4 separate regions of the Homo sapiens genome follow, and all the other regions are linked to region 4. Evidence: fine-mapped expression QTL. A gene starts in region 4. Each other region holds a variant in brackets. All regions are shown on one strand. Distances are between the middles of the regions.

The links. PIP is the estimated chance that this variant, and not a neighbour inherited with it, causes the effect.
Region 1: its variant is fine-mapped to the expression of NRBP2 in monocytes after LPS (Quach 2016, PIP 0.95).
Region 2: its variant is fine-mapped to the expression of NRBP2 in whole blood (TOPMed, PIP 0.95).
Region 3: its variant is fine-mapped to the expression of NRBP2 in whole blood (TOPMed, PIP above 0.99). The same link has a PIP of 0.9 or more in neutrophils.

What each region holds. Positions count from the first base shown.
Region 1 is chr8:144,051,966-144,059,829 of GRCh38, reverse strand. It overlaps OPLAH (5-oxoprolinase, ATP-hydrolysing), which reads left to right. Exons shown (of 27, transcript NM_017570.5): 3 at 40-231; 4 at 751-850; 5 at 934-1,057; 6 at 1,139-1,334; 7 at 1,426-1,591; 8 at 1,682-1,820; 9 at 1,907-1,974; 10 at 2,117-2,382; 11 at 2,510-2,622; 12 at 2,712-2,882; 13 at 3,075-3,212; 14 at 3,307-3,445; 15 at 3,571-3,683; 16 at 3,891-4,042; 9 more. It overlaps MIR6846 (microRNA 6846), which reads left to right and starts at 2,450; the gene lies at 2,450-2,509. RefSeq lists an enhancer at 7,075-7,864. The variant C/T (reference allele first, on the strand shown) is at 4,148.
Region 2 is chr8:143,926,227-143,931,920 of GRCh38, reverse strand. It overlaps PLEC (plectin), which reads left to right. Exons shown (of 32, transcript NM_201384.3): 19 at 262-387; 20 at 1,385-1,537; 21 at 1,623-1,777; 22 at 1,859-1,985; 23 at 2,092-2,275; 24 at 2,350-2,507; 25 at 2,640-2,818; 26 at 3,929-4,067; 27 at 4,155-4,511; 28 at 4,586-4,669; 29 at 4,840-4,944; 30 at 5,039-5,137. Among named protein-coding and RNA genes, the nearest start is that of PLEC, 11 kb to the left of the region's middle. RefSeq lists enhancers at 2,932-3,181, 3,572-3,701 and a silencer at 3,316-3,445. The variant G/A (reference allele first, on the strand shown) is at 1,904.
Region 3 is chr8:143,917,646-143,925,509 of GRCh38, reverse strand. PLEC (plectin) reads left to right here. Exons shown (of 32, transcript NM_201384.3): 31 at 1-3,006; 32 at 3,115-7,864. Among named protein-coding and RNA genes, the nearest start is that of PLEC, 18 kb to the left of the region's middle. RefSeq lists an enhancer at 1-202. The variant C/T (reference allele first, on the strand shown) is at 3,739.
Region 4 is chr8:143,836,647-143,844,510 of GRCh38, reverse strand. NRBP2 (nuclear receptor binding protein 2) reads left to right here and starts at 3,538. Exons shown (of 18, transcript NM_178564.4): 1 at 3,538-3,805; 2 at 4,282-4,404; 3 at 4,481-4,582; 4 at 4,686-4,775; 5 at 4,962-5,002; 6 at 5,103-5,197; 7 at 5,316-5,339; 8 at 5,411-5,494; 9 at 5,573-5,628; 10 at 5,736-5,831; 11 at 6,756-6,888; 12 at 7,002-7,104; 13 at 7,212-7,262; 14 at 7,337-7,472. The coding sequence starts at 3,677. MIR6845 (microRNA 6845) reads left to right here and starts at 6,695; the gene lies at 6,695-6,755. RefSeq lists enhancers at 2,191-2,920, 2,921-3,651, 6,963-7,690 and a silencer at 3,077-3,636.

The sequences.
Region 1 (7,864 bases), 220 kb before region 4:
CCACGGCCAGAAGCCCCACACTGACCACGTGGTCCCCAGGAGGCCGGCATGCTCCTGCCCCGGGACCAGCCGCTGGACTCCAGTCATATCGCCAGCATCCGCATGGGCACCACAGTGGCCACCAACGCACTGCTGGAGCGGAAGGGGGAGCGGGTGGCGCTGCTGGTGACACGTGGCTTCCGAGACCTGCTGCACATTGGCACCCAAGCCCGTGGGGACCTCTTTGACCTGGTGAGCTCCATGTTGGCTGGGGACCAGGCTGTGTGGTGTACACCCCCCAGGGATGCCTTGACCCTGTGGGGAGAGCAGTTGTTGGATTAGTGATGGCTCATGGGCACCAGCCGACAAAGAGGAAGCTCCCGAATTCCCAGTGGGACCCCAAGTTCTCCTAGCCCTCGGAGTGGGCACAGGATGCCCTGTTCCTGCCTGCCGCCATGCCCACCCTGGATGCTGGTGTGGGGCCACCCAAGCTACCCTGTTCAGGCAGAGGAGGGGTGGAACCCCGCACCTACTGCTGCGTTTCCGGAAGAAGCTGCCTTCGTGGGGGTGGAGCAGTTGGCTGCACTCAGCTGCCTAGGGGGTGGAGAGCTGCCCCCTTGGTGAGCCTTGCTGGGGCTGCCAGGTATGACTCTCCTGGGCCTGCCGACCGGCCTGTTGGGACACAGCCACTCACCTGTACCACCCACTCACACAGGACCCCGGCCTGGACCCTCAGGCCTGGGCCTCTTCTGAGTCTCTGCCCGCCCCCAGGCCGTGCCCATGCCTGAGGTGCTGTATGAAGAGGTGCTGGAGGTGGACGAACGCGTGGTGCTGCACCGTGGAGAGGCGGGCACCGGGACGCCTGTGAAAGGTGTGTGTGCCGCCGCTGCTGTGGGATTTGGGGCCGGAGGGTCCTGCTGGCCTTTAACGGGGCCTCCTGGGCTTTTCTGGAAGGCCGCACGGGGGACCTGCTGGAAGTGCAGCAGCCTGTGGACCTGGGGGCCCTGCGTGGGAAGCTGGAGGGGCTGCTATCTCGAGGCATCCGCAGCCTGGCTGTGGTGCTCATGCACTCGTACACGTGAGTGAGGTGGGGCTGTGGGCTGCGGGAGCAGGTGCCGGGCCTGGTGGGAGACGAGGTGCCACTGGGTTTTTGTCATAGGTGGGCCCAGCATGAGCAGCAGGTGGGTGTGCTGGCCCGGGAGCTGGGCTTCACGCACGTGTCACTGTCCTCGGAGGCCATGCCCATGGTGCGCATCGTCCCTCGGGGGCACACGGCCTGTGCCGACGCCTACCTCACGCCCGCCATCCAGCGCTACGTGCAGGGCTTCTGCCGTGGCTTCCAGGGCCAACTCAAGGTGAGGCTGTGAGGCACCCCCACTGCCCACTCCTGGGCCTGGGCCTGGGCCTTGGCCTGCCCCTCATGGCCCGCCTGCTGCCCGCTCGCAGGATGTGCAGGTGTTGTTCATGCGCTCCGATGGCGGCCTGGCGCCCATGGACACCTTCAGCGGCTCCAGTGCTGTGCTCTCGGGCCCGGCCGGCGGCGTGGTGGGCTACTCAGCCACCACCTACCAGCAGGAGGGTGGCCAGCCTGTCATCGGCTTTGACATGGGAGGTATGAGGGCCGAGGGCTGGGGTCTCGGGGAGGCTCAGCTGCTGGGCCCCTGGGTCTTCAAGTGACCCACCAGCACCCCACCCCTGCCAGGCACGTCCACGGATGTGAGCCGCTATGCTGGGGAATTCGAGCACGTCTTCGAGGCCAGCACAGCTGGCGTCACCCTCCAGGCCCCGCAGCTGGACATCAACACCGTGGCAGCGGGAGGGGGTTCCCGCCTCTTCTTCAGGTCAGCTCTCCTGCTTCCCAGGCTGGGACCCCAGCCCTGTCTCCCTCCTCGTGTCCAACTCCAACCCCAGCCCTTCCTTCCCCTAGGTCTGGCCTCTTTGTGGTTGGGCCCGAGTCAGCAGGAGCCCACCCAGGACCCGCCTGCTACCGCAAAGGTAAGAGTCAGGATCTGGCCGGCCTGGCCTTGCCCTCCGCTTGCCGCCGCAGGCCCAGCCCCTCCTGTCAGCCCTATCCCTGCTGCCTACTCCTGCTCCCCTGCCTCCAGCCCCCAAGCCCCACACCCTGTCCACCTCCCAGGGGGCCCTGTGACAGTGACGGATGCTAATCTGGTCCTGGGTCGCCTGCTGCCTGCCTCCTTCCCCTGCATTTTTGGGCCGGGAGAGAACCAACCACTTTCCCCTGAGGCCTCCCGCAAAGCCCTGGAGGCTGTGGCCACTGAGGTCAACAGCTTCCTGACCAACGGGCCCTGCCCGGCCTCCCCGCTGAGCCTGGAGGAGGTGGCCATGGGGTTCGTGCGCGTGGCCAACGAGGCCATGTGCCGGCCCATCCGTGCACTCACGCAGGTACGTCCACCTCTGCTCTCCCGCCTGTCCTGCCCCCAGCCCTGCTCCCTGCCCCAGGCCTCCTGCTCAGGCTGGGGGCTGGATGGGGTAGAGTAGGAGAGCCCACTGACCCCTTCTGTCTCCCTAGGCAAGAGGCCATGACCCCTCAGCCCATGTGCTGGCCTGCTTTGGGGGAGCTGGTGGGCAGCATGCATGTGCCATCGCCCGGGCCCTGGGCATGGACACGGTGCACATCCACAGGTGGGCCTGGGTGTGGGTGCACGGAGGTGGTGTGATCTGCGCCGGGCTTGGGAGGTGACCTCCCATTGCCATGCTGCCCATCCCTGCAGGCACAGTGGGCTGCTGTCGGCCCTGGGGCTGGCCCTGGCTGACGTGGTGCATGAGGCACAGGAACCCTGCTCCCTGCTCTACGCGCCTGAGACCTTCGTGCAGCTGGACCAGAGGCTGAGCCGCCTGGAGGAGCAGTGTGTGGATGCTCTGCAGGCCCAGGGCTTCCCCAGGTGGGCTCCCAGGGTGCCCTGGACAGAGGGCTTACGTTGTCCTCACCACGCCCTTGGTGGGTGTTCCTCCTGATGACTTCCCAGGTGGTCCCGGGGTGTGCGAGAAGCAGAACAGGTGTCCTTGCCGGGCGCTGGGTGGGGTGGGGTCAGGGCAGGGGGTTTGGTGTGAGTGCCCCCAACCACCTGCTGCAGGTCCCAGATCAGCACTGAGAGCTTCCTGCACCTGCGCTACCAGGGCACGGACTGTGCTCTGATGGTGTCTGCCCACCAGCACCCAGCCACAGCCCGCTCGCCCCGTGCGGGGGACTTCGGGGCAGCCTTTGTGGAGCGGTACGTGGCTTCCTGACTCCGGATCCCTGGCAAGGGGCCCTCCTGTCTGGCCGCCTCACTCTGACCACTCCTTGGGTCCCCGCGGGGAGTGCAGGTACATGAGGGAGTTTGGCTTTGTCATACCTGAGCGGCCGGTGGTCGTGGACGATGTGCGAGTGCGGGGCACCGGCCGCAGTGGTCTTCGCCTCGAGGATGCCCCCAAAGCCCAGACCGGGCCTCCCCGGGTGGACAAGGTTGGTGGTCCTGCCTGTGCCAGCCTGACAGCACCCATGGGGCACCGGGATGGGGACCAAGCCCTGTGAGAGGCATCGGGGAGGGTGCTGGGCCCGGGCGCTGTACTCACCCGCACCCTCTGCAGATGACCCAGTGCTACTTTGAGGGGGGCTACCAGGAGACCCCTGTGTACCTGCTGGCAGAGCTGGGCTATGGGCACAAGCTCCATGGGCCCTGCCTCATCATCGACAGTAACAGGTGGGCTGAAGTCCGGCCAGGGTGGAGGATGTGGACGGGTCCACTGCGGGGCCCCTGGTGCAGGGTTCTCTGGCCCAAGGCTGCAGGGGCCTGCAGGACTCTGTATCCCACCATCGTTGGGGTGGCCCCTGGCCTGGGGCCGTGGCATCTCTGGTTGGAGGGGTGTCGCCTGGCCCCATGCAGCCCTCTGTGCCCTCTGCTCCCCAGCACCATCCTGGTGGAGCCAGGTTGCCAGGCAGAGGTGACCAAGACAGGGGACATCTGCATCTCCGTGGGGGCCGAAGTCCCCGGCACAGTGGGCCCCCAGCTGGACCCTATCCAGCTGTCCATCTTCTCACACCGCTTCATGAGCATTGCTGGTGAGTGGCCGCTGCCAGGCTCCCTGTGGGATGAGGCGCCGGCTGTGTCATGGGGTAGCTGGCAGGGCTGTGCCCAAAGGGAGAGGCAGAAGCAGGACCCCCTGG[C/T]GACGGGGCGGGCAGTGTGGCCGCAGCACTGGTGTGGTGCAGTTGGCCATGAGAACAAACCTTGGGCAGGGAGGACACCTTCCCCCCTTACCTGCAGCCATGTGATCCAGAGAGTGCCCTCCTAGCTAAGGAAGGGATACTGAGGACAGCACAGGGAACCCATCTGTGCAGGGTCAGGCCAGCGGCTTGCTGGGAGCCCAGAGGTCAAGAGCCTAGGAACCAGGTTCTTGCTGTGCCAGGCAGGGTGGGAGGGTCGAGGGGTGGCACTGGGTTCTTGCTGGGGGCTCCAGGCAGGGCTGGGGAAGGTGGTGTCCTTTACATAGGCTAAGACGTGGCCAAGTGGGCACACCGTCAACTTGGTCTTCCCCAGGAAAAAGCTGCTGGGTTTTTCCTGGGTCCTGGGTTTGAGTCCTGGTGGGTCCTGTTCCTCCCTTTCCTGGGGCCAGGCTGTGGGTGGGTGGGGCCAGCGGGCCTGGTCACTTTGTGCTCCTAGAGCAGATGGGCCGCATCCTGCAGCGCACAGCCATCTCCACCAACATCAAGGAGCGTCTGGACTTCTCCTGTGCCCTCTTTGGGCCCGATGGGGGGCTGGTGTCCAATGCCCCCCACATCCCTGTGCACCTGGGTGCCATGCAGGAGACGGTGCAGTTCCAGGTGGCCCTTCCCCCGCCTCACCCTTCCATCCCCCTCCCTCACCCTCCACCCCCCCCCCACCCCGCTCTGGCCCCTGCTCCCCTGTGCCCACTCTGCACCCATCTCCTGGTTTCAGATTCAGCACCTGGGGGCCGATCTCCACCCTGGCGACGTGCTACTGAGCAACCATCCCAGTGCCGGGGGCAGCCACCTGCCAGACCTGACTGTTATCACACCGGTGAGGGGTGCTGCCCGCCTGCCTCTGCTGGGGCAGTGGTGGCCGATGCAGCTGACCGTGGCTCTCCACCCGCTAGGTGTTTTGGCCGGGTCAGACGCGGCCTGTGTTCTATGTGGCCAGCCGAGGGCACCACGCAGACATCGGGGGCATCACACCAGGCTCCATGCCCCCCCACTCCACCATGCTGCAACAGGAGGGTGCCGTCTTTCTGTCCTTCAAACTTGTCCAGGGGGGCGTCTTCCAGGAGGAGGGTGAGTGGGAGTGGGGTGGGGCAGGCCTTCTGTAGGCTGGGACACATGGCCACTGCTGGCAAGCAGGCCTGGCTGGACCGTGGGATGCAGCCCATAGGCCCAGGCCTGCCTTGAGGCTGGGAGGAGATAGGTGGTTACCCCAAAGGGCAGCTGCAGATCGGATCCCGGGAGCTGAGATGAATTCAGCCTGGGCCCAGGAAGGCCTCCCGAGGGGTGGTTTTGCGGGTGGAGAGTTAGCCAAGACGTGGAGGGTCAGGGTGCTGGAGAGAGAAGCCTGTTTCAAGGTGGGTGGCTGCTTGTGGTGTGTGCAGTCATACTGGGTGGGGTCCGCAGAGAAACAGCAGGGCAGGGGCAGGGCCCAAAGGCCCCTGTAGAGTTTTCTGGGCCTAGGTCTGAGTCACTGGGTGGTGGGTGGCCGTGAAGGGCTTTCAGCTGGGCCTGCGCTGAGCTCCCACTGTGCCCACGTGCAGAGAGGATTCGGGGTCTTGAGAGTGGCCTGGAGGCTGGGGGGCAAGGTGGGGGGAAGCTGCAGTTGCCCTGGATGATGCTGATGTCTTGGGCTGAGTGGAGAGCGAGGGCGGGGGGTGGGGGACAGTTTTAGAGGTGGAGGTGGGTATTTGGAGGGATTTGGGAGAGGGGGCCAGGGGTCAAGTTTGGGCAGCTGGAGGTGGAGGGCCTGGCACTGAGCAGCTGCAGGGAAGGGGGGATGGAGGCTGCAGGGGTGCCTGTGGTGGGGGTGGGGGTAGGAGAGACAGGGAAAAACAGCCCTGGTCTGAGGCTGCAGGTCTGGGAGCCCAGGGGAAGTGGCGTGGCCAGGGTGGAGGGTGGTGGCAGAGGGTGGGTGTAATGGAACCACAGGCTGTTCTGGGTGTTGAGGACACAGATAGGGTGGCCCATTGCTGGCTGCTCCCTTGGTCAATGTGAGCTGGGGCAGGGGTTGTGGACCACAGAGGGACATGCACAGGCACACTGCAGAGGGCCTTGTGGCTGCCTCAGAGGGGACCCTGAGCCAGGCTCAAGGAGAGGGGCTTTCCTGAGGTGCTGAGCAGTCCCAGGCCAGGCCTCGGTGCTTTCTAGGGGCCAGAGACCTTGTCTGGATCTGGGAAACCTGGGTTGGGGGTGCAGACAGGGTTGGCCAGGGGCTCAGTGATGACACTGTCCATCCAGCGGTGACGGAGGCCCTGCGGGCGCCAGGCAAGGTCCCCAACTGCAGCGGAACCAGAAACCTGCACGACAACCTGTCGGACCTCCGTGCCCAGGTGGCAGCCAACCAGAAGGGCATCCAGCTGGTGGGGGAGCTCATTGGGCAGTACGGCCTGGACGTGGTGCAGGCCTACATGGGCCATATTCAGGTGGGCCTGGGCACAGGAGTGTGGGCGGCAGGGCCATCCTGCAGGTGACCTGGCCACCACTGATCCTGCTCCCTGCCAGGCAAACGCTGAGCTGGCCGTGCGAGACATGTTGCGTGCCTTTGGAACCTCCCGGCAGGCCCGGGGCCTGCCCCTGGAGGTGTCCTCGGAAGACCACATGGACGACGGTTCCCCCATCCGCCTCCGTGTGCAGATCAGCCTGAGTCAGGTGGGCCGTGGGGAGAGTGCCTCTAGGCGGCAGGGGCACGGTGCGGCCGCTGACAGCCTCTCCCTTCCCTCGGGGCGCGCAGGGCAGCGCCGTGTTTGACTTCAGCGGCACTGGGCCGGAGGTGTTTGGTAATCTCAACGCACCGCGGGCCGTAACCCTGTCCGCCCTCATCTACTGCCTGCGCTGTCTGGTGGGCCGCGACATCCCACTCAACCAGGTTCGCAGGGGTGTGTGCGCGAGGGGGGGCCCCAGCCCGAGGTCACCCTGAGTGCGCCTCCTGGGCCCAGCCACGGTCTGACCCCACGGGTGCTGGGGCGGGGGGTGGGGTGCTGTTTCTCCCGGAGCCCACCCCAAGAGCTCCTGAGAGCCGCCCGCCCCGCACAGGGCTGCCTGGCGCCAGTGCGCGTGGTCATTCCCCGAGGCTCCATCCTGGACCCGTCGCCCGAGGCGGCGGTGGTGGGCGGCAACGTGCTCACGTCGCAGCGCGTGGTGGATGTCATCCTGGGGGCCTTTGGGGCCTGCGCCGCCTCCCAGGTGCGGGGGCGGGGTGGGCGCAGCTCGGGGGCGGACTGGGTGGGCAGGCTGGAGTAGGAGCGGGAGGGCGAGGTGGGGACGCCCTGCCCCAGCCCAGCGCAGCGACCAGGTGCCCTCACCAGGGCTGCATGAACAACGTGACCCTGGGCAACGCCCACATGGGCTACTACGAGACGGTGGCGGGCGGCGCGGGCGCGGGTCCCAGCTGGCACGGGCGCAGCGGTGTGCACAGCCACATGACCAACACACGCATCACCGACCCTGAGATCCTGGAGAGCCGGTGAGCGGCGTGCGCGGAGGCTGGGGGCACGGCCGGGTGGGAGCCGGGGCTCGGGCCACGCTGAGTCTTTGCCCTCGTCCTCGCCCTCGCAGGTACCCGGTCATCCTGCGCCGCTTCGAGCTGCGGCGGGGCTCGGGGGGCAGAGGCCGCTTCCGAGGCGGCGACGGCGTCACCCGCGAGCTGCTCTTTCGTGAGGAGGCGCT
Region 2 (5,694 bases), 88 kb before region 4:
CCTCCGCACTGTGGCTCAGCGGCAGCCTTGCAGGAGCCCCTGGACCCCCTCGGCAGCTCCAATCAGGAGCCCTCCTGTCTGCAGACGTTGCCAGCTGCTGCCTGCAGCCTGACCGGGGCCTTGGACAGGGGTGCTCCCCAGGCCTCCTGGGGGCTTTGCCACTCCTTCCTCAGTGCCCCCGTCTTGGGCCTGCCCTGGGACAACTGTGGGCTGGGGCTCTGGTCCCAGGTAGCCTGGCGTGACCCCCTCCCGCTGCCCCAGTTCTTCTCAGATGTGCGGGAGGCCGAGGGGCAGTTGCAGAAGCTGCAGGAGGCACTGCGTAGGAAATACAGTTGTGATCGCTCCGCCACCGTCACCCGGCTGGAGGACCTGCTGCAGGATGCCCAGGTGAGGGAGGGGGTGTGCAGGGGCGTGTCAGGAGGGGCTGGCCTGGAGTCTGGGCTGCACGGGTACTCTGGAGACTAGGGGGCAACTGGAGGGGCCAGCAGGAGTTGGGAGGCACCATGGGAGGTGTAGAGGTCAGCCGAAGCGGGAATGAGGCAGGATGTTCTGGGCTGCATGGGTACTCTGGAGACTAGGGGGCAACTGGAGGGGCCAGCAGGAGTTGGGAGGCACCATGGGAGGTGTAGAGGTCAGCCAAGGGGGGAATGAGGCAGGATGTGGGGAGCCGAGAGGCAGCCGGTCCAAGCCGGGCCGCCCCCATCTCCATAGCCACAGAGTGAGTGGAAGCCTGAAGTCAGCAGCTGCCGCCAGCCCTTGTGCTGTAGAAGGGGCACCGCCAGCCCTTGTGCTATAGAAGGAGCACTGCCAGCCCTTGTACTATAGAAGGGGCACCAGCTGTTTGGCCTGAGATCTGGAGCGGGCAGAGTGGAACTGGGCTTTGTGCTCTGGGAGCAGGGGTGGGATCACCCAGGAGGGCGGGTGCACAGTGGGGAGTGACAGGGAAGAGGGACTGGAGACTGAAATGGCCTCTGAGGTCGGCAGGGCTGGGCCGGGGGGAGAGCCGGCAGCTCCCAGGTGTGTGCCGTCCTGCGGCCTGGCCCCCGCAGAGGGGTGGGATGGGAGGAGGCAGTACCTTCTGCAGCCCGCAGGGGAGGGGCAAGGGGCGAGGGCATTGTAGGGACCAGAGCGTAGCTGGGAGGACATGGTGGGTGAGCTGGGGTGAGAGGAGGGTGCCCTGTCTGGGTTGGGAAGGAGCGAGGGTGCATGGGTCTGCTTGGGGCCAACCCCCGGGGCCTGTCCCAGCTATACCTCCTGCTTCCAAGTGCTGCCACCCCGGGAGCATCAGGAGGGCCCCACAGGCCTGGTCCCGGGGTCTGGGGGTGCCTGGGGCAGGCCTGTGGGTCTCCATGGCCCTCGTCTGGATGCTGCCCCTCCCCCACAGGACGAGAAGGAACAGCTGAACGAGTACAAGGGCCACCTCTCAGGCCTGGCCAAGCGGGCCAAGGCCGTCGTGCAGCTGAAGCCCCGCCACCCAGCCCACCCCATGCGGGGCCGCCTGCCCCTGCTGGCCGTGTGCGACTATAAGCAGGTGGAGGTGAGCGCAGGCCGGGGGTCCACTGGGGGGCGTGGCCAGGCAGGGCAGGGTGTGGCCATGTCCTCACCGACTCTGCCCGTCCCAGGTGACTGTGCACAAGGGTGACGAGTGCCAGCTGGTGGGCCCTGCACAGCCGTCCCACTGGAAGGTGCTCAGCAGCTCCGGCAGCGAGGCCGCCGTGCCCTCCGTGTGCTTCCTGGTGCCCCCGCCCAACCAGGAGGCCCAGGAGGCCGTCACCAGGTGGGTGGCGGGGGCTCAGCAGGTGGGGGCTGGAAGGCGGGTGGGGCGCTGGTGACGCTGACTGTAGCCCTGACCTGCCAGGCTGGAGGCCCAGCACCAGGCCCTGGTCACGCTGTGGCACCAGTT[G/A]CACGTGGACATGAAGAGCCTTCTGGCCTGGCAGAGCCTTCGCCGCGACGTGCAGCTCATCCGCTCCTGGTCCCTGGCCACGGTACGCCTGCCCCCGAGCCGGGGGCTCTCTGGGTGGGAGGAGGGGAGAGGCGTTGTGCAGGGCACGGCCGCCTCGCCCGGCACTCAGCCCCACGTGCTTCCCCCAGTTCCGCACCCTGAAGCCAGAGGAGCAGCGCCAAGCCCTGCACAGCCTGGAGCTGCACTACCAGGCCTTCCTGCGGGACAGCCAGGACGCGGGCGGCTTCGGACCCGAGGACCGGCTGATGGCTGAGCGCGAGTACGGCTCCTGCAGCCACCACTACCAGCAGCTGCTGCAGAGCCTGGAACAGGGTAGGGCACGGCAGGGCTGGGGCGGTTGGGCTGGTGCGAGGTGGGCGGTGGAGTGACCCACATGTGTTCCCCAGGTGCACAGGAAGAGTCTCGCTGCCAGCGCTGCATCTCCGAGCTCAAAGACATCCGGCTGCAGCTGGAGGCCTGTGAGACGCGCACCGTGCACCGCCTGCGGCTGCCGCTGGACAAAGAGCCGGCACGGGAGTGTGCCCAGCGCATCGCCGAGCAGCAGGCAGGGGCCGTCCCCCCCCATCCAGTCCCATCCCTCTCCCCATCCCTCCTCCCACCCTCCCTCCTTTGGCCTTCAAGGGGCGCTGTGTGCTGCGCTCGGTGATGAGTGCGTTCCCACTCCCTGTCTTTGCAGAAGGCACAGGCAGAGGTGGAGGGGCTGGGCAAGGGGGTCGCCCGGCTCTCTGCCGAGGCCGAGAAGGTCTTGGCCCTACCAGAGCCATCGCCTGCGGCCCCCACGCTGCGCTCGGAGCTGGAGCTGACGCTGGGCAAGCTGGAGCAGGTCCGCAGCCTGTCTGCCATCTACCTGGAGAAGTGAGTGCACCTGGCCACAGGCGAGGGGCTGGGGTCGGCTGGGGGGTGCTGGGGTGAGGGCTGTGACCTTGCAGGAGGGTGCAGGAGGGAACGAGTTGGGGGCTGTTCAGAGATCTGGCCAGGAGGCGGGAGGCCCAGCTGGGGTGGTGGCCGCAGAGGTGGTGAGAAGAGTTCAGGGCTGGATACGCTTCGACAGTGGCGGCCGGGGGACTTCCTGGTGATGAGATTCGGGTGTGGGGAAGAGACAGTGGAGCTGGGCAGCGGCTGCTGAGTGAGGTGGGGAAGCTGTGGATCCACTTTCAGTGGCACAGTAAGGAATCCTGCACCCTGCCTCTCGTCTGTCCTGTTCCTGGCCTGGACTTAAGGGCCTCTGGCATTTATTTCCAATGTGTTATGTCATAGTCTCTTCCTGTGTTGCAAACCACAGGTCCACCCGCTGTCTACTCCTCACAGAACCAGCACAGTGATAGGGCCGCCGCCTCTTCCTGTGTTGCAAACCACAGGTCCACCCGCTGTCTACTCCTCACAGAACCAGCACAGTGATAGGGCCGCCACCTCTTCCTGTGTTGCAAACCACAGGTCCACCCGCTGTCTACTCCTCACAGAACCAGCACAGTGATAGGGCCGCCGCCTCTTCCTGTGTTGCAAACCACAGGTCCACCCGCTGTCTACTCCTCACAGAACCAGCACAGTGATAGGGCCGCCGCTGGCTACCACAGGGTGCCATTTCCACCCCGGTGTCCCCTTCGCCCAGTCTTGGGCTGCAAGGGCTGAGAACTACGCTTCCAGGCCCTGTGGGCACCAGGATGCCGCTGTCATCCAGCCAGTGGGCTCGTCCTGTCTCGGGGCCTTGGGGTCTGCCGTTCCTGGCTGGCGCACCCCCTCTCCAGGCTGGGTCCTGAGTGTCCTTGTGTTACAGAGGCTCCCAACCTCCTTCTCCCCAAGGCTGTTCTTCTCCTGAAGCAAGCCTCTGACCACAGGGTCAGCTGACCCCCAGGGTTGGGTCTGGGCTTGGCAGGCAGCACCCTGGGTCGCTGTGGCTTGGGTTCCATTCCCTTGGGCTATTGCTCGAGCCCCATGTCATGGCCCTGAGCCCCGCTTTCCCGCCAGGCTCAAGACCATCAGCCTGGTGATCCGCGGCACGCAGGGGGCCGAGGAGGTGCTCAGGGCCCACGAGGAGCAGCTCAAGGAGGCCCAGGCCGTGCCGGCCACCCTCCCGGAGCTCGAGGCCACCAAGGCCTCTCTGAAGGTATCGTTTCGAGGCTTGGGCTTCATGGCGGGGTGGGGGTACAGCGGGCCCAGCTGAAGCCGCACATGTCCCTCCTGTCCCCAACAGAAGCTGCGGGCCCAGGCCGAGGCACAGCAGCCCACGTTCGACGCCCTGCGGGATGAGCTGCGGGGGGCACAGGAGGTGGGGGAGCGACTGCAGCAGCGGCACGGGGAGCGGGACGTGGAGGTGGAGCGCTGGCGGGAGCGGGTCGCCCAGTTGCTTGAGCGCTGGCAGGCTGTGCTGGCCCAGACCGACGTGCGGCAGCGCGAGCTCGAGCAACTGGGCCGCCAGCTGCGTTACTACCGCGAGAGTGCAGACCCCTTGGGCGCCTGGCTGCAGGACGCCAGGCGGCGGCAGGAGCAGATCCAGGCCATGCCGCTGGCCGACAGCCAGGCTGTGCGGGAGCAGCTGCGGCAGGAGCAGGTGGGCTTGGGTCGGTGGGGACGGGGCGGCTGGGCGTGCCCTGCGGCCACGGCTCTGACCACACCATCACCCAGGCCCTGCTGGAGGAGATCGAGCGCCACGGCGAGAAGGTCGAGGAGTGCCAGAGGTTTGCGAAACAGTACATCAACGCCATCAAGGTGAGGCCCAGCCGCCTGCACCAGGCCCCAAGTCCGGGACCGTTGCCAGGATGATGGCGGGCTTTCCCTGAGCCTGGGCCATGCCAGGGAAAGCCCATGTGAGGGTTTAGGGGCTGGGCAGGGGCCATCGGAGGGCAGAGCTGGTGGCTGACCGCAGTGCATTGCCACAGGACTATGAACTCCAGCTGGTGACGTACAAGGCGCAGCTTGAGCCGGTGGCCTCCCCGGCCAAGAAGCCCAAGGTCCAGTCGGGATCAGAGAGTGTCATCCAGGAGGTAGGGTGGGGCCGAACCTAACTGGGTGAGGGGCTGGCAGGCCTCTGGCTGGAGCTGCAGCTCTCGCAGGGCTAACCCTGGCTCTACTCCACAGTACGTGGACCTGCGTACGCACTACAGCGAGCTGACCACACTGACGAGCCAGTACATCAAGTTCATCAGCGAGACTCTGCGGCGCATGGAGGAGGAGGAGGTACAGCCCGTTGGGCGGAGGCTGGGCAGAGGGTTCCATCTCACCACCTGTTGTGTCCCACACACAGCCACAGGAGCTGCCTGAGGCCACCTCTCGTGGCCCTCCCCACTCTCCCCACTGGCGCTGCCAGCACCCCCTGCCCCCAGCTCAGCCTGCCCCAGGCTGCCCCACCTGTGGCCTGCCCCCCTGGCCTGGTGTGGCTACACTGCTCCCCCACAGTGGCTGGTGCCGCCTCTCCTCCCTCGTGAGCGTCCCCCCTGCAGCCTAGCGGCCGTCCTGTGGGCTCTTCCTTGGCGTTCTGCGTTGGCCTTTCCGCTCAACCCTTTGCTGCCAGAAGTCGGGGGTGCTGAGTTGTGGGGCTAGGGAGGGTCTTCCAAGGCACCCATCTGTTGGCTTCTCCCTACCTTCTGCGTGGCCCTGAATCCTCTTCCGAGTTGGCTCGGGTCTGCACTGCTGTCTCCACGCTGGCCGCCTCGCCTCACCCCGCCCCACCCAGGCTTCCCACCCTGGTCGGGGAGAGGGGTCCAGTGGTGGGAGCCAGGCCCACTGGTGTCCAG
Region 3 (7,864 bases), 81 kb before region 4:
GAGCTGCAGGCACTGCGTGCACGGGCGGAGGAGGCTGAGGCACAAAAGCGACAGGCGCAGGAGGAGGCCGAGCGCTTGCGGAGGCAGGTGCAGGACGAGAGCCAGCGTAAGCGGCAGGCGGAGGTGGAGCTGGCCTCGCGCGTGAAGGCCGAGGCCGAGGCGGCGCGCGAGAAGCAGCGGGCCCTGCAGGCCCTGGAGGAGCTGCGGCTGCAGGCGGAGGAGGCGGAGCGGCGCCTGCGGCAGGCCGAGGTGGAGCGAGCGCGGCAGGTACAGGTGGCCCTGGAGACGGCGCAGCGCAGTGCAGAGGCGGAGCTGCAGAGCAAACGCGCCTCCTTCGCCGAGAAGACGGCACAGCTGGAGCGCTCCCTGCAGGAGGAACACGTGGCTGTGGCACAGCTGCGGGAGGAGGCTGAGCGGCGGGCACAGCAGCAGGCCGAGGCCGAGCGGGCGCGCGAGGAGGCAGAGCGGGAGCTGGAGCGCTGGCAGCTCAAGGCCAACGAGGCGCTACGGCTGCGGCTGCAGGCGGAGGAGGTGGCGCAGCAGAAGAGCCTGGCGCAGGCCGAGGCTGAGAAGCAGAAGGAGGAGGCGGAGCGCGAGGCGCGGCGGCGCGGCAAGGCGGAGGAGCAGGCCGTCCGGCAGCGGGAGCTGGCTGAACAAGAGCTGGAGAAGCAGCGGCAGCTGGCGGAAGGCACCGCGCAGCAGCGCCTGGCCGCGGAGCAGGAGTTGATCCGGCTGCGGGCCGAGACGGAGCAGGGGGAGCAGCAGCGGCAGCTGCTGGAGGAGGAGCTGGCCCGGCTGCAGCGTGAGGCGGCTGCAGCCACGCAGAAACGGCAGGAGCTGGAAGCCGAGCTGGCCAAGGTGCGGGCCGAGATGGAGGTGCTGCTGGCCAGCAAGGCGAGGGCTGAGGAGGAGTCGCGCTCCACCAGCGAGAAGTCCAAGCAGAGGCTGGAGGCCGAGGCCGGCCGGTTCCGCGAGCTGGCCGAGGAGGCCGCCCGCCTGCGTGCCCTGGCGGAAGAGGCCAAGCGGCAGCGGCAGCTGGCCGAGGAAGACGCGGCGCGGCAGCGGGCCGAGGCGGAGCGGGTGCTTGCGGAGAAGCTGGCCGCCATCGGCGAGGCCACGCGGCTCAAGACGGAGGCGGAGATCGCGCTCAAGGAGAAGGAGGCGGAGAACGAGCGCCTGCGGCGGCTGGCGGAGGACGAGGCCTTCCAGCGGCGGCGGCTGGAGGAGCAGGCCGCGCAACACAAGGCTGACATCGAGGAGCGCCTGGCCCAGCTGCGCAAGGCATCGGACAGCGAGCTGGAGCGGCAGAAGGGGCTGGTGGAGGACACGCTGAGGCAGCGGCGGCAGGTGGAGGAGGAGATCCTGGCGCTGAAGGCGAGCTTCGAGAAGGCGGCCGCTGGCAAGGCGGAGCTGGAGCTGGAGCTGGGACGCATCCGCAGCAACGCGGAGGACACGCTGCGCAGCAAGGAGCAGGCCGAGCTGGAGGCTGCGAGGCAGCGGCAGCTGGCGGCGGAGGAGGAGCGGCGGCGCCGTGAGGCTGAGGAGCGCGTGCAGAAGAGCCTGGCGGCCGAGGAGGAGGCCGCACGGCAGCGGAAGGCGGCGCTGGAGGAAGTCGAGCGGCTGAAAGCCAAGGTGGAGGAGGCGCGGCGCCTGCGGGAGCGAGCGGAGCAGGAGTCGGCGCGGCAGCTGCAGCTGGCCCAGGAGGCCGCCCAGAAGCGGCTGCAGGCGGAAGAGAAGGCACACGCCTTCGCGGTGCAGCAGAAGGAGCAGGAGCTACAGCAGACGCTGCAGCAGGAGCAGAGCGTGCTGGACCAGCTGCGCGGCGAGGCGGAGGCGGCCCGGCGGGCGGCTGAGGAGGCGGAGGAGGCCCGGGTGCAGGCGGAGCGTGAGGCGGCGCAGTCCCGGCGGCAGGTGGAAGAGGCCGAGCGGCTGAAGCAGTCGGCAGAGGAGCAGGCACAGGCCCGGGCTCAGGCACAGGCGGCTGCAGAGAAGCTGCGCAAGGAGGCCGAGCAAGAGGCGGCGCGGCGGGCACAGGCGGAGCAGGCGGCCCTGCGGCAGAAGCAGGCAGCTGACGCGGAGATGGAGAAGCATAAGAAATTCGCCGAGCAGACGCTGCGGCAGAAGGCGCAGGTGGAGCAGGAGCTGACAACACTGCGGCTGCAGCTGGAGGAGACCGACCACCAGAAGAACCTGCTGGACGAGGAGCTGCAGCGGCTGAAGGCGGAGGCCACGGAGGCCGCACGCCAGCGCAGCCAGGTGGAGGAGGAGCTCTTCTCGGTGCGCGTGCAGATGGAGGAGCTGAGCAAGCTCAAGGCACGCATCGAGGCTGAGAACCGCGCACTCATCTTGCGTGACAAGGACAATACGCAGCGCTTCCTGCAGGAGGAGGCTGAGAAGATGAAGCAGGTGGCGGAGGAGGCCGCGCGGCTGAGTGTGGCGGCCCAAGAGGCTGCGCGACTGCGGCAGCTGGCAGAGGAGGACCTGGCACAGCAGCGGGCCTTGGCAGAGAAGATGCTCAAGGAGAAGATGCAGGCGGTGCAGGAGGCCACGCGACTCAAGGCTGAGGCGGAACTGCTGCAGCAGCAGAAGGAGCTTGCGCAGGAGCAGGCGCGGCGGCTGCAGGAGGACAAGGAGCAGATGGCGCAGCAGCTGGCGGAGGAGACGCAGGGCTTCCAGCGGACGCTGGAGGCCGAGCGGCAGCGGCAGCTGGAGATGAGCGCTGAGGCTGAGCGCCTCAAGCTGCGTGTGGCCGAGATGAGCCGAGCCCAGGCCCGCGCTGAGGAGGACGCCCAGCGCTTCCGGAAGCAGGCGGAGGAGATCGGTGAGAAGCTGCACCGCACGGAGCTCGCCACCCAGGAGAAGGTGACCCTGGTGCAGACACTGGAGATCCAGCGACAGCAGAGTGACCATGATGCCGAGCGCCTGCGGGAGGCCATCGCTGAGCTGGAGCGTGAGAAGGAGAAGCTCCAACAGGAGGCCAAACTGCTGCAGCTCAAGTCTGAGGAGGTACCGCCCCCTCTACGTGCGACGGGCGGGTGGGCCCGGGGATCTGCTTTGGTGGGTGATGGGTGCTCCTGGGCTGGCGGTCCCTGATCACACCCTCTTCTTCTGCAGATGCAGACGGTGCAGCAGGAGCAGCTGCTGCAGGAGACGCAGGCCCTGCAGCAAAGCTTCCTCTCTGAAAAGGACAGCCTGCTACAGCGGGAGCGCTTCATCGAGCAGGAGAAGGCCAAGCTGGAGCAGCTCTTCCAGGACGAGGTGGCCAAGGCACAGCAGCTGCGTGAGGAGCAGCAGCGGCAGCAGCAGCAGATGGAGCAGGAACGGCAGCGGCTGGTGGCCAGCATGGAGGAGGCGCGGCGGCGGCAGCATGAGGCCGAGGAGGGCGTGCGGCGCAAGCAGGAGGAGCTGCAGCAGCTGGAGCAGCAGCGGCGGCAGCAGGAGGAGCTGCTGGCTGAGGAGAACCAGAGGCTGCGTGAGCAGCTGCAGCTCCTGGAGGAGCAGCACCGGGCCGCGCTGGCGCACTCAGAGGAGGTCACTGCCTCGCAGGTGGCTGCCACAAAGACCCTGCCCAATGGCCGGGATGCACTTGATGGCCCCGCGGCAGAGGCAGAGCCGGAGCACAGCTTCGATGGCCTGCGGCGGAAGGTGTCAGCTCAGAGGCTGCAGGAGGCCGGCATCCTGAGTGCGGAGGAGCTGCAGCGGTTGGCGCAGGGCCACACCACGGTGGACGAGCTCGCA[C/T]GGCGGGAAGACGTGCGCCACTACCTGCAGGGCCGCAGCAGTATCGCAGGGCTGTTGCTGAAGGCCACCAATGAGAAGCTGAGTGTTTACGCCGCCCTGCAGAGGCAGCTGCTGAGTCCCGGCACGGCCCTCATCCTGCTGGAGGCGCAGGCGGCCTCAGGCTTCCTGCTGGACCCTGTGCGGAACCGGCGGCTGACCGTCAACGAGGCTGTGAAGGAGGGTGTGGTGGGCCCCGAGCTGCACCACAAGCTGCTGTCGGCCGAGCGCGCCGTCACTGGCTACAAGGACCCCTACACTGGCCAGCAGATCTCTCTCTTCCAAGCCATGCAGAAGGGCCTCATCGTCCGGGAGCACGGCATCCGCCTGCTGGAGGCCCAGATCGCCACGGGCGGCGTTATCGACCCCGTGCACAGCCACCGCGTGCCCGTGGACGTGGCCTACCGGCGCGGCTACTTCGACGAGGAGATGAACCGCGTCCTGGCGGACCCCAGCGACGACACCAAGGGCTTCTTTGACCCCAACACGCACGAGAACCTCACGTACCTGCAGCTACTGGAGCGCTGCGTGGAGGACCCCGAGACGGGCCTGTGCCTTCTGCCACTCACGGATAAGGCTGCCAAGGGCGGGGAGCTGGTCTACACTGACTCCGAGGCCCGGGACGTCTTTGAGAAGGCCACCGTGTCTGCGCCGTTCGGCAAGTTCCAGGGCAAGACGGTGACCATTTGGGAGATCATCAACTCGGAATACTTCACGGCAGAGCAGCGGCGGGACCTGCTGCGGCAGTTCCGCACGGGCCGGATCACAGTGGAGAAGATCATCAAGATCATCATCACGGTGGTGGAGGAGCAGGAGCAGAAGGGCCGGCTTTGCTTTGAGGGCCTGCGCAGCCTGGTGCCAGCCGCCGAGCTGCTGGAGAGCAGGGTCATCGACCGCGAGCTCTACCAGCAGCTGCAGCGAGGTGAGCGCTCTGTGCGAGACGTAGCCGAGGTGGACACTGTGCGGCGGGCTCTCCGGGGTGCCAACGTCATCGCGGGTGTATGGCTGGAGGAGGCGGGGCAGAAGCTGAGTATCTACAATGCCCTGAAGAAAGACCTGCTGCCATCCGACATGGCCGTGGCCCTGTTGGAAGCCCAGGCCGGCACCGGGCACATCATCGACCCCGCCACCAGCGCCCGGCTGACCGTGGACGAGGCAGTGCGTGCTGGCCTGGTGGGCCCCGAGTTTCATGAGAAGCTGCTATCAGCCGAGAAGGCTGTGACAGGGTACAGGGACCCCTACACAGGGCAGAGCGTCTCCCTGTTCCAGGCCCTGAAGAAGGGCCTCATTCCCCGGGAGCAGGGCCTGCGCCTGTTGGACGCCCAGCTGTCCACGGGCGGCATCGTGGACCCCAGCAAGAGCCACCGCGTGCCCCTGGATGTCGCCTGCGCCCGAGGCTGCCTGGATGAGGAGACCAGCAGGGCCCTGTCGGCACCAAGGGCCGACGCCAAGGCCTACAGTGACCCCAGCACAGGGGAGCCGGCCACCTACGGCGAGCTCCAGCAGCGGTGCCGGCCCGACCAGCTGACCGGGCTGAGCCTGCTGCCGCTCTCAGAAAAGGCTGCTCGGGCCCGGCAGGAGGAGCTCTACTCAGAGCTGCAGGCCCGTGAGACCTTTGAAAAGACCCCGGTTGAGGTCCCCGTGGGTGGCTTCAAGGGCAGGACGGTGACGGTGTGGGAGCTCATCAGCTCTGAGTACTTCACTGCGGAGCAGCGGCAGGAGCTGTTGCGTCAGTTCCGCACGGGCAAGGTCACCGTGGAGAAGGTCATCAAGATTCTCATTACCATCGTGGAGGAGGTGGAGACCCTGCGGCAGGAGAGGCTGTCCTTCAGCGGCCTCCGTGCCCCTGTGCCAGCCAGCGAGCTCCTGGCTTCCGGGGTCCTCAGCAGAGCCCAGTTTGAGCAGCTCAAGGACGGCAAGACGACGGTCAAGGACCTTTCGGAGCTGGGCTCCGTGCGGACGCTGCTGCAGGGCAGTGGCTGCCTCGCCGGCATCTACCTGGAGGACACCAAGGAGAAGGTGTCCATCTACGAGGCCATGCGCCGGGGCCTGCTGAGAGCCACAACGGCTGCGCTCCTGCTGGAGGCGCAGGCGGCCACTGGCTTCCTGGTGGACCCCGTGCGGAACCAGCGCCTGTATGTCCACGAGGCCGTGAAGGCGGGCGTGGTGGGCCCCGAGCTTCACGAGCAGCTGCTGTCTGCCGAGAAGGCCGTCACCGGCTACAGAGACCCCTACTCGGGCAGCACCATCTCCCTCTTCCAGGCCATGCAGAAGGGCCTGGTTCTCCGGCAGCACGGCATCCGCCTGCTGGAGGCCCAGATCGCCACGGGCGGCATCATCGACCCCGTGCACAGCCACCGCGTGCCTGTGGACGTGGCCTACCAGCGCGGCTACTTCAGTGAGGAGATGAACCGCGTCCTGGCGGACCCCAGCGACGACACCAAGGGCTTCTTTGACCCCAACACGCATGAGAACCTCACGTACAGGCAGCTGCTGGAGCGGTGCGTGGAGGACCCCGAGACGGGCTTGCGCCTTCTGCCACTGAAAGGGGCGGAGAAGGCTGAGGTGGTGGAGACCACGCAGGTGTACACTGAGGAGGAGACAAGAAGGGCATTTGAAGAGACACAGATCGACATTCCCGGCGGCGGCAGCCACGGCGGCTCCACCATGTCCCTGTGGGAGGTGATGCAGTCGGACCTGATCCCCGAGGAGCAGCGGGCCCAGCTGATGGCTGACTTCCAGGCCGGCCGGGTGACCAAGGAACGCATGATCATCATCATCATCGAGATCATTGAGAAGACAGAGATCATCCGCCAGCAGGGTCTGGCCTCCTACGACTACGTGCGCCGCCGCCTCACGGCTGAGGACCTGTTCGAGGCTCGGATCATCTCTCTCGAGACCTACAACCTGCTCCGGGAGGGCACCAGGAGCCTCCGTGAGGCTCTCGAGGCGGAGTCCGCCTGGTGCTACCTCTATGGCACGGGCTCCGTGGCTGGTGTCTACCTGCCCGGTTCCAGGCAGACACTGAGCATCTACCAGGCTCTCAAGAAAGGGCTGCTGAGTGCCGAGGTGGCCCGCCTGCTGCTGGAGGCACAGGCAGCCACAGGCTTCCTGCTGGACCCGGTGAAGGGGGAGCGGCTGACTGTGGATGAGGCTGTGCGGAAGGGCCTCGTGGGGCCCGAGCTGCACGACCGCCTGCTCTCGGCTGAGCGGGCGGTCACCGGCTACCGTGACCCCTACACCGAGCAGACCATCTCGCTCTTCCAGGCCATGAAGAAGGAGCTGATCCCTACTGAGGAGGCCCTGCGGCTGCTGGATGCCCAGCTGGCCACCGGCGGCATCGTGGACCCCCGCCTGGGCTTCCACCTTCCCCTGGAGGTGGCTTACCAGCGTGGCTACCTCAACAAGGACACGCACGACCAGCTGTCAGAGCCCAGCGAGGTGCGCAGCTACGTGGACCCGTCCACCGACGAGCGCCTCAGCTACACGCAGCTGCTCAGGCGGTGCCGTCGTGACGACGGCACCGGCCAGCTGCTCCTGCCACTGTCGGACGCCCGCAAGCTGACCTTCCGTGGCCTGCGGAAGCAGATCACCATGGAGGAGCTGGTGCGCTCGCAGGTCATGGACGAGGCCACGGCGCTGCAGCTGCGGGAGGGCCTGACCTCCATCGAGGAGGTCACCAAGAACTTGCAGAAGTTCCTGGAAGGCACCAGCTGCATCGCTGGTGTCTTCGTGGACGCCACCAAGGAACGGCTCTCGGTGTACCAGGCCATGAAGAAGGGCATCATCCGCCCCGGCACAGCCTTTGAGCTCCTGGAGGCGCAGGCGGCCACCGGTTACGTCATCGACCCCATCAAGGGACTGAAGCTGACGGTGGAGGAGGCTGTGCGTATGGGCATTGTGGGCCCCGAGTTCAAGGACAAGCTGCTGTCGGCCGAGCGCGCCGTCACTGGGTACAAGGACCCCTACTCTGGGAAGCTCATCTCCCTCTTCCAGGCCATGAAGAAGGGCCTGATCCTGAAGGACCATGGCATCCGCCTGCTGGAGGCCCAGATCGCCACGGGCGGCATCATCGACCCTGAGGAGAGCC
Region 4 (7,864 bases):
AGAAAGACAGCCTACGCCATTATTTCTGCATATCAGAGACTTTTAGTACTTTCACTAATTTGCTACTGCTATCTAGAAGGCAGAGCCAGGTGTACAGGATGGAACATGAAGGCGGACTAGGAGTGTGACCGCTGAAGCACAGCATCACAGGGAGACGGTTAGGCCTCCGGATAACTGCAGGCGAGCCTGACTAATGTCAGGCCCTCCACAAGAGGTGGAGGAGTAGAGTCTTCTTTAAACTCCACCGGGGCAAGGGAGACTCCCTTTCCCGGTCTGCTAAGTAGCAGGTGTTTTTCCTTGACACTGCGCCTACCGCTAGACCAAGGTCCACTTGGCAACAGGCATCTTCCCAGACGCTGGCGTTACCGCTAGACCAAGGAGCCCTCTGGTGGCCCTGTCTGGGCATAACAGAGGGCTCGCACTCTTGTCTTCTGGTTACTCCTCACTATGTCCCCTTAGCTCCTATCTCTGTATGGCCTGGTTTTTCCTAGGCTATGATTATAGAGTGAGGATTATTATAATATTGGAATAAAGAGTAATTGCTACAAACTAATGATTAATGATATTCATATATAATCATATCTAAGATCTATATCAGTACAACTATTCTTATTTTATATATTTTATTATACTGGAACAGCTCGTGTCCTCGAGTCCCAGGCACGCCTTGACCTGTGGGTACATCCCTCCAACACTGGCCTCCATGTTCATGTGACTGTCTACCTTATTTCTCTGCACCCCAAGTATCCCTTTTCTTTCTCTGATAAGGACATCAAACATTGGATTTAGGGCCCACCCCAGCATCTCAAGATCCTAAACTTATTTACATCTGCAAAGACCATTTTTTTTTTTTCAAATAAGGCTGTGCTCCTAGGTACTGGGGATCAGGATGTAGACTTTTGGGGGACACTATGTGACCTACCACAGAACATGTGTGTCTGGTTATGGGGGCGGAGAAAGGGGAGGAAATTCATTGAGATTCTTCTGCTCAAGGCTTACCTCCTTAGGGGCTTCTCTGGACCACACCCGCCAAAACGCACCCCTGCCCACCCACAGATCCATTCAACAAGTGTTTGCTGAGGGCCTGCTGTGTGCCGGGTACCGTCCTCGCACCAGAGAAAGAGCAGGGACAACGAGCAGACACTCCTGCCCTGCGGGAGCTCGAATCGCAACAGGGACACAGACAGTGAAGAAGAGAGATGAGAAAAACCCAGATGCAAGTCAGGTGGGGTGAATACTCCGGGAAAAGTCAAGTCAAGCAGGCGAAAGGGTGTGGGGACTGTGATGTCAGGATTCGTGGTCAGGACAGGCCTCTCAGGAAGTGACCTCAGAGGATGTTTGGGAAGGGCGTTCCGGGCAAAGGTATAACCAGGGCAGAGACCCTGAGGGGAAGTGCCTGTCATGTCCGATGGCACAGGGCCGTGTACTTGGGGTGGGCTCAGCTGAAGAAGGCAGCTGACGTGAGGTAGGGTAATGGGACCAATTACTGGGCCTTCATGTTTAGGCCCTCATACCAAGTGAGAAGGGACCACTGGGGGGGCTCCCCAAAACCACCCTCAAGTTCAATGGTTCACTAGAAGGACTCACAGAACTCGGAAAGGGTACTATTTATTACAGCAATGGATGCGTTAAAATCAGCAGTGGCAAGGACTCACAGAACAGAACCCAGGACAGACCAGCACGGGTCTGCAGGTGTCCCCACCCACTGCAGGCATGGGGACAGTGCTCAACCTCCCAGCACTGAGGTGTGACAATGAGCACAGCATGTCAGCAGCCAGGGAAGCCCTCCGTACCTCAGTGTCCAGGGTTTTTATTGGGTTGGTCACACAGGCATGGCTGACCTCCCAGGTGGCTGACTTTGGCCTCCAGCCCCTGCAGAGGTCAGGCTGATGCCACATGGCCCAAGGTCCCCCCGTAGACCATATTGTTAGCACAGACCAGGGGTGTCCAATCTGTGGGCTTTCCTGGCACACATTGGAAGAATTGTCCTGGGCAATACCCTTAAATAAAATACACTTAACACTAACAACAGCTGATGAGCTTTAAAAAAAATCTCAATAAGAAAGTTTATGAATTTGTGTTGGGCCATATTCAAAGCTGTCCTTGGCCGAATGCACCCTCTGGGCTGCGGGTTGGACAAGCTTAGCATAGAATCTGGTGTGGCCGAGGTAAACACAGACATTCAAATCAGGCAGAACATTCCAAGGGCTTAGAGGGTGTCTCCCAGGAGCTGGTCAGGGCCAGTTTCAGGGTGGAGGATTTGAACACCCCAAACCTTTACTGCAGAGGGCCTCAGCAGGATCACCTGGCATTGGTGGAAACCACACACAAGGTGCCTGGTGACCAAGGCTGGTCAGAAAAGAGAGACCACAGGGGACGCAGCAGGGCCAGATGCACCTCTGCCAAAGAAAGAAAGAGGCGTCCCAAAGGGCCAGTGCATGGAGCTGCGCGGAGGGGAGGAGCGGAGTTCCAATTTGGGCTCCAGAGAGAGAAGGTAAAGGATGAGGACCCGCCGTGAAGGAGGGAGGAGACCACAGGAAGGCCGTGGGGGCTGTGGGCTGAAGGGGGTTTTAGGTGAGAATCGGGGACAGCCCCGGTGGTCGGCGTGGCTGGAGGGTGTGCTTAGAGCGGCCTCCGGAGGGAGAGGTCGTGTGAGCCGGGTGGGCTCCCCCCTCATGGTTCCACTGTCCCATGGGAGCCAGCCGCGGAAAGGAAATGCGCGTTTGAGGAGAAAAGAGAAAATCGCCATCCTGGAAAGTGAGAAGATGGGCTTGTGGGCGGGAGGAGGCACTGGTGGGCGGGCCAGGGAGAGATTCGTGGTCACCGATCAAAGTCAGCCTGGGTCAGCCTGCTGGTGGGCCTTTCCCCCGCCCTCGGTGCCCCTTCGACCTGTCCCTTGGGGGTCGGCCGGGGAATGAGTGCGTGGCCAGGAGAGCGGGTCCCGCTTTCGAGCCCGCGGGGTCTTCTGCAGCTGGAGGGTGCCGTGGGCTTGGGGGCCCCCAGATGCCCCGGGTCTTCCCCCAGATCCTAGGGGAGCAACCGCGAGAGAAGTGGGCGCTCCGGGCTCCAGGTGTCCGCAGGGCGGGGCCTCCGAGGGGGCGGGGATTTGGGGGCGGTTCCTCTGCGCGGGGCGGGGCCTCATAGGGGCGGGGCTTCGAGGAGGTGAGGCGGGGCCTGGGGTGGGGCTTCGCGGAGGACCCTGGGAACGGGCGGGGGCGGGGACTAAAACGGGGCGGGGATTCGCGGGGGTGGGGCGGGTCCTGGGGCGGGGCTTCGCGAAGGAGGCTTGGAGGACGAGGAGGGGACAGGGCCTGGGGAGGGGCTTCGCGGAGCAGGCCTGGGAGACGAGGAGGAAACAGGGACTGGGGCGGGGCTTCGCGGGGCGGGGCCTCCGGGGGGGCGGGGCCTGGGCGCGGCCCGGGCTCGGCAGCTCTCGGGGAAGCTCTGCTCTGGCTCCGGCAGGCACAGGCGGCTCGGGAGGTGCGCGCCGGCTCCGCCCCCGGGCCCCGCCCGTCCGCCGCGCGCCCGCGCCTCCCAATTCCCAGAGCCGGGGCTGGGGCTCTAGGCTGCCGCGGCGGCTCTAGGCTGGGCTGCTGGGCGCGAGGCCAGGGCGGGCCGGGAGAGGCTGCGCCGGCGGCGGATCGCGCAGAGGGCGGTGGCCTGGGCTGGCCGAACCATGGCGGCCCCGGAGCCGGCGCCGAGGCGGGCCCGGGAACGGGAGCGGGAGCGGGAGGACGAGAGCGAGGACGAGAGCGACATCCTGGAGGAAAGCCCGTGTGGTCGCTGGCAAAAGCGACGGGAGCAGGTGGGCGCGGGGGTTGGGGCACGGGGTGACACCGCCCTCCCAGAGCGGGAGGGGCCTGGAGGCTGCGCGGGGCGTGGGGGCGCTGGGAGAGCGCGGCGGCTGGAAACCTCTCCGCGGCCCCTCGCGGCCCGCGAATCAGCCACCCCTGGACCCCTTTGGCCTGGCGCTCGCCCTGGGACTCCCTGAGGGCCAGTCTCCTCCCAGGACCACCTCCCCATGCCTCTGGACTCAGCCGCTAGCTTCCTGGGGATCCCCCTCGACCCCCTGAAACCTGCTCCAAATCCCCTTAGCCCAGCCCTTGGATAGGAGCCCTTGGCTCCTGGGGGCAGCTACCCTCCAAGCCCCACCTTCCCGCAGAGTGGCTCAGGGCCTGCAGCCCACGCTTGGGCCCACTGGAAAGGTGTGGACAGGGACCAAATCCTCACCCACAACCCTGACACACACCAGGGCACACATAACCCTTTATTCACCCCCAGGTAAACCAAGGGAACATGCCAGGGCTTCAGAGCACCTTCCTAGCCATGGACACGGAGGAGGGGGTAGAGGTGGTGTGGAACGAGCTCCACTTCGGAGACAGGAAGGCCTTCGCGGCGCACGAGGTGAGACCGCTGCCCCCTCCTCATCCTGCTTGGGTGACCACCTGCTGACCACCCAGCGACCACCCTCCCTCCCCAGGAGAAGATCCAGACCGTGTTCGAGCAGCTGGTGCTGGTGGACCACCCGAACATCGTGAAGTTGCACAAGTACTGGCTGGATACCTCTGAGGCCTGCGCGAGGGTGAGCACGGGCAAGGCCCCGGGCAGGCAGAGACCACAGCTAGGTGGGGCGGGCATGGGGACGAACCCGCAGCTGGTGGAAATCCTGAGCTCGCACCGTGCAGGTCATCTTCATCACAGAGTACGTGTCATCAGGCAGCCTCAAGCAATTCCTCAAAAAGACCAAGAAGAACCACAAGGCCATGAACGCCCGGGTATGGGGAGCGGGCTGGGGCAGCCACGGGGACAGGACGGGGTTGGGGCAGCCTCGGGGACTGGGATGGTGAGGGGGTGCCCGGCGGCCTCGGACAGGGGCTGGGCGAGGATGCGGGGCGGGCTCCGCAGGCCCAGCCGCCTCTCCTGCGCCCACCCGACCGACGGAGTCGTGCGTCCGCCGCCAGGCCTGGAAGCGCTGGTGCACGCAGATCCTGTCTGCGCTCAGGTGAGGGCCTGGGCTGGCCTGGGCGCGGCGCCACCGAGCCCCCATCTCTCCAGAGCCTCCTGACCGGCTCCTCCTACTCTCCCCTCCCCAACGTCTGCAGCTTCCTGCACGCCTGCAGCCCCCCAATCATCCACGGGAACCTGACCAGCGACACCATCTTCATTCAGCACAACGGCCTCATCAAGATCGGCTCCGGTGCTGGCGGGGCAGGGCTGGGTGGGGGAACGGGGCAGGGGAAGGTGCCTGGAGCCAAGGGCAGAGGAGTTCTGATGCCCCAGCAGCTAACTCCACTCTTTCTCCCGCCCCTTGGCAGTGTGGCACCGAATCTTCTCCAATGGTAAGTGCGGACTTTGGGGGGACGGGGTCCTGGAGAGGTCCCCGCCCGCTCAGCTCTGCGCCCTCCCACAGCACTTCCAGATGATCTCCGAAGCCCCATCCGCGCTGAGCGAGAGGAACTTCGGAACCTGCACTTCTTCCCCCCAGAGTATGGAGGTGAGTGGTGCTGGGTCCGGGTGCCCCGTGCCTACCCTGCGCTTCTCTCCTACGTGTCCTGTGCTCTCTTCTGTTCAGAGGTGGCCGATGGGACCGCTGTGGACATCTTCTCCTTTGGGATGTGTGCGCTGGAGGTACTGCCCCCGCCCTCCACCTTGTGCTCTGCCCTCCTCCTAACTGTGCCCTGCCTGGCTCACCTGTGTGGTCCCTTCCCCATGCCTGACCTGGCTCTGTGCCCCAGATGGCTGTACTGGAAATCCAGACCAATGGGGACACCCGGGTCACAGAGGAGGCCATTGCTCGCGCCAGGCACTCGCTGAGTGACCCCAACATGCGGGTAAGCAGCTTGCCCTGCCCCTCCCCAGCTGGCTCACCGTGCTCAGCTAGGGCTAGCAAGGTGCTCCAGGCAGACCTGGGAGAACATCACAGTTTGTGCAGTTGAGGGGTATACCAGCTGACTGCACCCCTCCCAAAGAGGACCTCAGTGGGAGCACATACTGGTTCCAGGCCTGAAGGCCCTAAGGGGTCAGCACATTCTAAGGACAAGAAGGCAAGAGAGACCCTCCCTCTGTGGCTGCCATCACCATGCCCGTTTTATAAAGAAACCAAGGTTCAGAGGAGATGAGTCCTTTGCCCAAGGCTTTAGAGTGAGTGGTGGAGCCAACATCTGCACCTGGGTCTGCTTCACTCCAAGTCCTTGACTTTAAGCTTCCAGGAGGTGATGAGGCTCCAGCTTGTGGGGGGACATGGTGGGTGCCAAGCAGGCAAAAAGAGGTATGGGATGGAAGCTGCATCCACAGCCCCCTCTGCTCGGAGTCTAGACTTAACTCCATGGCCTCAGGAGATGGGGGTGCCTGGTCGGGGCTGGTGGCGAGCTGGAGCCGGGCTGGGCACGGATGTGGACAGAGTGGGGACCCATCAAGGTCGTCTCCAGTGTTGGGCCCGAGCTGAGCCGATCAAAAGGCCATGGGTAGGAGGCTTGCAGGTGTGACTTTAGGATCATGGCTTCTCCCCACGATTTTTTGGGGGTCGAGGGAAGCAGAGCATGGTGCTCCAATCCCAGAACCCAGCTGTCCTCAAGCTCAGAGGACCAGGTCCTGGCCTGGCTGCTGCTGCTGGGACTCCTCCCTATGGGCATCCCTGCATGTCCTGTGTGTCCCTGAGGAGGGACATGGGGAACTCAGGGGCCACCTCTCCTCGAACTGCGGGGCCAGAGCAGAGAGCCCTTGCACACCACCAGCCTCTCCTCCCTGTGCCCCAGGAGTTCATCCTTTGCTGCCTGGCCCGGGACCCTGCCCGCCGGCCCTCTGCCCACAGCCTCCTCTTCCACCGCGTGCTCTTCGAGGTGCACTCGCTGAAGCTCCTGGCAGCCCACTGCTTCATCCAGCACCAGTGTGAGCAGCAGGCCGGCCCGGGGGGTGGCTGGGGAGGTGGAGGTTGGGACGTGGAAGGGGCCCTGCAGGACCCACGGCCTGAGCACACCGCCTTGATGCTCTTGTGGCCGCAGACCTCATGCCTGAGAATGTGGTGGAGGAGAAGACCAAGGCCATGGACCTGCACGCGGTCTTGGCGGAGCTTCCCCGGCCCCGCAGGCCCCCGCTGCAGTGGCGGTGAGCAGTCAGCACCCAGAAGCCTCCCCTCCCCACACCTCCCCTCCCCGCACCTCCCCTCCCCTCGCCCCGGCCAGCCCCTCATGTGCCTCCCACTTCCATGCCAGGTACTCGGAAGTCTCCTTCATGGAGCTGGACAAATTCCTGGAGGATGTCAGGTGAGAACTGATGTAAGGTTGGGGGCCAGGCAGCTGTCAGGCCTGAACCCCCAGCCACCCTGTTGTGTCCCCAGGAATGGAATCTACCCACTGATGAACTTTGCAGCCACTCGACCCCTGGGGCTGCCCCGTGTGCTGGCCCCACCCCCGGAGGAGGTCCAAAAGGCCAAGACCCCGACGCCAGAGCCCTTTGACTCTGAGACCAGAAAGGTGAGTCCCCTCTCCTGCTGCTCAGTGCCATCCCTCAGACCTTCTAACAGCCAGATAAGAGGTGCCCCTCCTTCTCTTAGGGCCTGCATCCCCACAGCCCAGCTCTCCTCCTGGCTGCCAGAGACCAGATCCAGGCTGACCCCCTTGTGGGGGTCATGGGGGTTATAGGACAGGCTGGGCACTCTCCTTTTCCGGGAGGCTCCCTGTCCCCTCAGATCCTTCCCCTGCATCCTGCTGCCTGCCCTGAACCTACTCCAAGCATCCTTCCTCCAGAACTCACCCGGGCTCTTCCACCCTGCCAGCAATCTTCCCCCACCCCCGCACCCCTCCCACCCCCCCCACCCCTCCCATCCCCCACCTGGTGCTGATTCCCGGACATCTATGTCCTGGTG